Linked DNA regions of Homo sapiens: regions 2 and 3 are each linked to region 1. The links come from fine-mapping of genetic effects on gene expression. A gene starts in region 1. Each other region holds a variant in brackets. All regions are shown on one strand. Distances are from middle to middle.

Evidence for each region. PIP is the estimated chance that this variant, and not a neighbour inherited with it, causes the effect.
Region 2: its variant is the best candidate, but not a certain one, in a credible set for the expression of PXDNL in left ventricle (GTEx, PIP 0.80).
Region 3: its variant is the best candidate, but not a certain one, in a credible set for the expression of PXDNL in atrial appendage (GTEx, PIP 0.72).

The regions. Positions count from the first base shown.
Region 1 is chr8:51,807,923-51,810,781 of GRCh38, forward strand. PXDNL (peroxidasin like) reads right to left here and starts at 1,523. Exons shown (of 23, transcript NM_144651.5): 1 at 1,259-1,523. The coding sequence starts at 1,422. RefSeq lists enhancers at 896-1,418, 1,419-1,940.
Region 2 is chr8:51,410,913-51,413,412 of GRCh38, forward strand. PXDNL (peroxidasin like) reads right to left here. Exons shown (of 23, transcript NM_144651.5): 15 at 2,238-2,346; 16 at 338-495. Among named protein-coding and RNA genes, the nearest start is that of PXDNL, 400 kb to the right of the region's middle. The variant C/T (reference allele first, on the strand shown) is at 1,003.
Region 3 is chr8:51,356,544-51,359,043 of GRCh38, forward strand. All of the region lies in intron 19 of PXDNL (peroxidasin like), which reads right to left. Among named protein-coding and RNA genes, the nearest start is that of PXDNL, 450 kb to the right of the region's middle. The variant T/C (reference allele first, on the strand shown) is at 1,265.

The DNA.
Region 1 (2,859 bases):
CTTGCAGAACTGTGCTGTCCACATAGCAATAAGCAGTGCTCCCAAGTTCAAGAATCCTTTCAGTTATTACAGTAAGACGTATTTTGATATCTGCATGCATATAAAATTAATGAAATGCTTTATAGAAATGAAAATCTATGGATAATATGTCATTTTCTATGTAAATACCATCAAATTGGACTTTTTATTACCAAGTCCTCATTTCACGATTATGACTGACAAATGTGTGGCAATGATCCTCTTAAACATTTATATCTCAAAATTCCAGGAATTTTAAGCTATTTCCCTCTGCCCAAGAATGGACTTGAAACACTGCAAGCAGTTTTGTCTTCCATGAACATGACACAACCCACAAAATATTTATTATAGAGCAGGAAACCTCTTTAGTCTGCATCTTTCAGCATTTTTCCTTTTCTTCTTTTATTTTTTCTTAAATTTTTGAATTTGTCGTCTTTTTCTTTCTTTAAAAATAGACCCTAGAAACAGATCCTTTTCTTCTTTTGTGGTGATTTGCCCTTCTAATTATCTAATTATGACTTAATTTAATCTAAATAAATCTAAATGTTTGGGTTTATTATCTGAATATTAAAGATGAGAAGATAGGATTTGAACTCAGACCTGTTTGACTTCCAAATTCTGGTTTGCCCTACTATCCCGTAATGCCTCCTAGATGCCGATTAGTCTAAGCGGCTGCTCCACAAGGCTTTTAAGCATTCAAGAACTCTACTGGACCATTTGAGGGTCTGTTCTGGAGACAGACAGTGCTTCAAGTGCTGAGGGCTCAGGACTTCACCCTCCCAGGAGGTACACACAGTACAAAGCCTAACAATTTGTCAGCACATAATCAATTGAAACCACACTCTAAAGTTAAATTAGTTCCTTCCAAATGGGGCAGACACGTGCTGACCAATTAAGAGGCCCAAAGACTTGGGAGTAGAGGATGAATAGGAATAAATTGAGAAAGTATGCAGGAAAATTATTGAAGGAAGAATGAAGACGAGAATTCTCAATGCTAAGTTCTGGAAGATGCTGGAAGAGAACTGAATCCAAAACAAATATATTTATGTCAACTCATCATTGCTTACATTTTCTAGTCTAACAGAGCAGAACCATGAAATTGTTTGAAAAGTGAAAAGCCTCTTCTAAGTATACAAGCAGGGAGAGCATTAGGAATCGTAAATTAAAAGGACACAGGTCCTAGCAGAGAAGCAATGAAGCATTGGGGAAGAGGGTTTCTGGGGAATTTATGTGAACTTACAGAACTGTGGTCTGCTGTGGTACCTGAGGAATGTGGTCCAGCATCAAGTGCATGCAGCGGACGGTGCTCTTAAAGCAAAGGCACCGGCTGGGGCAGGGCAACCCTGGCAGGCACCACCCGGCCAGGAGAAAGAGAGTGGTCCAGCAGAACAGTCTGGGCTCCATCGCTCCATTCGCTGCTGGCCACGCGAAGAAGCAGCCGGAGGGAGAGCAGCAGCTGCAGCTGCAGCAGCAACCGCAGTGGTGGTGATGGTGGCTGCTGGACTGAGCCAAGTTTGGGAGCCGTGGTGGAAAGCAGCTCCCAGGGAAAGGACACCCCTCTGACCAATCCAGGAGGAGGGATATCACATTACAGGGCTGAGGGCACAAGCAGCTCTAGGAAGCACTAGACTCCCAGAGGCGAGGACGAGAAGCTTTTCAATGCAAAAGCCTCTTTCTAAAACACCGTGTTTTAGGCAGCATAATGCAAACAAACTTTTCCAAAATTACTTCCACTGCGCATTTGATGAAAAACCCGACCTCTTAGCCTCCAGCTGTCCTCTTGAAGCCCAAGTTGATTAAGAATGTATTGAAACAATGCAGAACAGCTTTTCTTCTTTTTTATCTGGTAACATTACCAAACCCTAAAGGGCAGGCAGAGTTCTAATTCGTTCATCTAGGTGCACATATTCTTTCTTTATTCCAAACTATGCTCTTTAATAAAAATTGTTTCATTTCCTTCTATATATTCTGCTGCTGAAACCCAACACATTTCACTCATGTAAGACTCAAACGGGCTACTTCTGATTTCTTCTTTTAACGTTTAAATTTATATGCTTAAAACCATGAACTCACATACCTCCTTCAAGAGGATACAACTGATGGACAAACCTAAGTATGTATATGTAAAGTCAAACAGATGCAAGCTCCCTCAGGACACACTGGCAGCAGTGGTCTTGCTGGTTGCAGACTTTTCATCAGCAGTTTGAACTGGCCATCTTTCCCTGAAGTGAGCAGCACCTCGTTGAGGACGTGTCTGAAAACTTAATAAATATGAAAACATCTACTTTTTGGTCATTCTGTAAGCAGGTATTTTTAAACAGATTTTTGGCTTTATCTTTAAAGACTAACATTTTCAAACAAAAATGTTTTAAATCCATAAAAGTAATAGAAAACAAATTAAAACTTGCATGGTCAATCCCAGATGATCAGACTAGTAGACCAATCTTAAGAGGAAAATAAGTTCATCCTTGTCTCTGCAGAAATGTTTCAGTCCCTTTACATTCTACTGTAGGCGAATACTGCCCTCTTTTGGCAAAATGTTCATATCTAAATATGTGATTTTGGGGAGATTAAAATGTAAAAAGATCTAAAAAACAAAACTAATCTCCATGAACAAGAATGATTTATTTTAAACTTTACATTTGACATTGTTCACATGACTTTTATTGTCCAAGTATACCAATAAAGCCAAAAAACGAAATTTATTCCTTTAAATCCCAACAATCACTATGCTCTTGGCAGTGCCTGTGATTTGGAGGACATAGACAAGACCTGCAGGTTTGTGCCTTGTTTGCAGTTCAAAATATAAAATACAAAAAATATAAATAATATAAAATATAT
Region 2 (2,500 bases), 400 kb before region 1:
TGGAAGAATATCCCCCTGGTAATAAAGCATTTCTCTATAAGACACAATAATATCTTTTACATTTGAAACACAAGTTCACTTAATGTAGGTTCCCTAGATTTGTTCTCTATACATATAACTTAAAAGTTGAGACAAGTTTGAATATATATTTATCATCCTTACTTTGGAATTACAGTTCCTATGAGAAACATCTGCATTTATTTGGTAAAAGTAGTGAGTAAATTAATTTCTAAATCCCATGATATTCTGGAGATTAAAAGTTCAGTGTCCTTTGCTAAGGTGGTGGTCAGTTTTTCTGTGGGCAGTAGGCTGAGAATAAAATGGCTTTGTGGCTGACCTTTGCCTTCCAAGTCCACAGTGAGCCCCTGCTTCACACGTTCCCGTATCAGCTGCAGCGTGTGCTCAAAAATCTCCCCTGCTCTTGCCATTTCCACAATCAGTGGGTCACGCGGGTAATGAAATTGAGCCAGCAGGTCACTGGAGGTGTGAGGTTTTCTGCAAATGACAAAACACATGATTCTTTACAAGGCAAAACAGCAGAGTCCATGAAGCTTGCAAATACTGTGCATTTAAAAAGGCATTTCCCAAACATTCGAGAAGAATGAAAGCTCCACCACTACAATAGAGGCTCTACAGAGGAGCTGTGGGTTCTTTTCCTATTTTGCTAACAACTTATTCCAAATGTTAGTCCCAGTGCTGAACTCAAAAATATATATTTTTAATGAATGGATGATTTAAACAATAGTTTTAGGAAACAACATCTATGGTGGGGTTCTAAACTGGGGGGGTCGGTTGATGAATGGATTATAGGAGGCTCAGTAAACCTTCTGAAGTACTATGCAATACTCTCGGTCTGCAGGACTTGGCATTTTGTGTCTTCTCTTTCCCTGAGTGTAATCTCCTAGAAATTCCTCCTTGCCTTTAGAATCCTCCTCAGGCCTCACTCTCCCTGTAGAGTTTCACTGAGAGCTCTGACAAGCTATCACTCCATCTTCTCTAGTA[C/T]TCCTGTATCCTTAAATATGTGTCTTATATACTCAGTAAAATGTACTTGAATTGCTGACATATTGTCTCCTCTGCTAAAGAAAGAACTAGGTTGCTGATGAGATGTTGACCTATTATTTATCTTGTATCCCAAATACCAAGCCCACTGACCAGCACATAATAGCAGTTTATGCACATTTGTAGAACTGAACCAAATATGTTAAAAAGAAATTTAAAAGCACTGAGAATGTGAAGCAAACTGTTTTAGAGACTTTGATCAACTGAGGCACATCTCATCCTCTATGTCTTGAATCTTAACTACTTGAGGTCACAGAATAATAATAATGATGCTAATAGTTCACTTTGGTTAAGCACTTTCTATTCTCCAGGCACTGTTGAAGCACTTTTTACATATTATCTTATTTTTTCTTCCTAGCAAGCACATCCATGAAGTAGATCCTACTGTTATCCCAACTTTAGAGAGCAAGGAGCCTGAGGTACAAAGATGTTAAGTCACTTGCTCAAGGTCACCCAGACAGAAAGTAATGAAGTGAGGAATCAGGAAGAGAATATAAATCTAAATCGGCTGCGTGGTTCTAGAACACACATGCATGATCACAAAGCCATTCTATTTATGGATGTGCAGGAAGCCAGAAGAGACTCAATTTGGGATTTTACGATGTCCCTTTTTGACCACTAACTGCAAATACTGAATATATACTTTATCCGATTATGATGAAATCAACAATCATTTTTTTGTTAATGCATCCTGATGTTACAAACACAGAGAAGTTAATGGGATTGGAAGGTTTCACTAGTCCATGAACATTCCAATTCAAATTAAAATAATGTAAAATGCCAAATATCCTAAACATAATGTTTGTCGTAGGCTCCCAGTTTATACCAAGGTGTGTTCAACTTGATAATCATTCTCAATTCACACATTGCAGGAGCACTGCATCTGACACTGTTTGGTGGATGCTGAGGTAACCCAGCCCATTGCCTAGTGTCTATTGTCAGCCTGTATAGCATGGACCTTTGGCATAAATTAATGCCATTTAGATTCTATGGGGAAGAAGTTTCCCCTTTTTTAGGGTGAACTGATAATGATGGCTAGCCCAGATGGGGATGCATACACAAGGACTAAAGAAAGCACTCTATTGCATATGCACTATAATGTGACTTATGGAGATGATAAAAACTAAGTAGAACAGAAATGAAAACAAGGTTTCAATCTGTGTAAAATAAATTCTTACTGTGAAAACAAATGTCTTCGTGTGGAGTTAATTGCACTGTCAACTCTCTGTACAGCATCAAGAATGGAAGATTCAACAAAGTCATCGCCAGCTTGTCTACCCTGTATAGCTTTGAAAATCAATTCCATGATTAAAAATATCAAACAGACCTTGAAGTTAGGCATGATATTATATGAATGGCATTACATTTTTAAATGTAATGCCATTACATTTAAAACCTCTAAGACAATGAAAATGTTATACAATATCTACATGATAATGCC
Region 3 (2,500 bases), 450 kb before region 1:
AAAGAACCTAGTAATTTAATGTGAAATGTTCTGTAAAGTATGTTAAGTGATATAAAATATTAAATCTCAAAGAAAATTTGAAAATTTTTGCTTTATCTTTTATGCTGGTAAAATAAGATTCTTGGCTTTCTCGTTATAGTCATTCATTTATCAATCTTGGTTACTGTGATCTTTTGATAACTACAAATTTAGCATTTGTCTCATGAGGTTTCCCTTTTCCCTTTTCCTTAAAAGAAAATCCAATCAAACAACATTTTGAACACTTGCTGCTTATCACTTCACCAGCTACGCCTCTGTCGGAGCTCTCTTGGTTCCTTATCTTTTCTTAATATTTTCAGTGGGCACTTACTATTCCCTAGGCCTTACCTACAGCACTGAATTATTATGTTTCTGCTGGCTAAAAGAACAAAAACTCCAATCAAGCAGCTGATTCATCTGATAATTATCCCCCAAACCACCCTACTGTTTATATAAGCTCTGAGTCAACTTGTAAGTTGTTTTGACATAATTTGGACACTGTCAATGGAATAGCATTTTCTCAAGTACCCAGAAAAACAAAAACCCCTCCTCATGGACAACAAGCAACATAATCTTTGGCCAGAATATCCCATTATTTGAATCAGAATATAGTCTCATTATCCTTACCAGTATTAATCCTTCCAGAGTGCTGTATTAATGGACTAAGTTATAAGTATACTGGTTTTCTCCTATGTATCTTGTACCAAAGACATCCATCTACCTGAGGCAAGAGTACACACAGAAGCAGCACAGAACTCCTGGACTGCCTCGCCTCTGCCATGTTTCCACATTCTCTGGTACTACTGATGGCAGTTCCTGTGCAAATCACAGCATTCCCAGAATGACTTCCAGTAAAATGCTGGGTGGCCCAAAGATAAGTAATTATACAGAGAATATCAAGAAGTGGTCCCTGAAGGAGGTCATCTAAGCAGACAGTATCTGATGTGGCTTCTTCAGATGCATTTGCACATATTTTTTCATACATATTTAGATGCAACTTGCTCATATTGACAAAATCAGAGTCAGTATACACACACAATAGAGAGTATAAATCTATGTGTCAAAATAACATGGGCAGAGAAATTAACCCACAAGGTAAAAGAAAGAAGTTGGCAACACCAGAGTGGAACAAATAGGATGCCTAGGGAAGAAAGGATCCCTGACTTTTTTTGGAGATTAACCACATGATTTTTATTTTTTTCCTAATGGAGGGCTTGTAGGTTTGTTTTTGAGTAGGTAAGAAATA[T/C]AACAGATTGGACAATTCTGTCAATATCCACAACATACCTTTAAAGCTATGCCTACTTCTGGGCATCACACTTTAATAAAGACCTTGATGAATTATAATGTTCTGAAAGAAAAACTGATAAGTAAAATCAGAATAATGAAGCAACTCTAAATCATGCAGCATGAAGAAACTAGGGAGTCTGGGATGGAAGGTGTCTGTTTAGTGCAGAAGAAAAGATTCATTATAAAAAAGAAAGCCATCTTCACAGGATAAACATGATGTCACACCAAAGGAGAATTAGAATTATCCCACGTTTCTCCACAAGGAGAAAAATGACCAAATAGAAACCTATTATGATAAGTTTCATCTTAGTATAAGATTAAAAATGAAACCTAATGAATTATCTTTAAATGAAATAGATTCTCAGATGATGTGGGCTCAGAGCCCATGGGATTTCATCTTCTCTCTTCCCAGGCTAAAAGACAGGAGGGGGCTAGCTGAAACAGTAAACAGGTAGTACCAGTTTTGCTTTTTACTTACGATAATCCTGAGGATCCTTCTAAGAGCTTTTTCGTCTTCAAAGAAATCAGTGTTTTAGAACTGAATTCCAGGTCACCCCTTGGTTTCAGATCAAAACTGGTTTTCTCAGACCTTGTGTCGGTACATTCCTGGCCCCCATAATAGTGTGTAAAAAAATGATTAAACAGGGTCTTCTGTGACCTTGAAAAACCAAATATGCTGATTAATGCTGTCAGACAGGAAAGCTCACATGCCTGTGCTCTCCCTGAAGAGCTCAGGCCTTGATCAGCATGTACCTCAACCAAAGACAAGAGGAATGGTCTCGCCTGGCCCCAGCATGAGGTCCTCATCACAGGACGCTCATTGCAGCACGCGGACAATGAGCTCACAGGGATTTGGGAGCACGGTGCCCTGAAGATGAGCACCCCAAAGATGGGCCTTCTTCCCCTCCCCCACAACCCCAGGGGACAGGCCTCCCCTGGGCAAGTGGCATAGGAATATAGAGGCCACAGTGTGCTTGAGAGGACAGGGGAACCCTGGGGAAAAATGCAGCACACAATCCTCCTAAAGGCTGCAGGCCTGGGGGAACCACGCCCAGCCCTGCTCAACTGAGGACTCAGAGCAGCTTACCTCTGAAAGGGCTTCATGTTCAGATTTCTGGCCGAGAGCTTCTGCCCTCAGAGTGTGCAGTGTGTCTCCACTTCTCAGAAAGCCAAGAATGAACTGAATAAGTGGGTT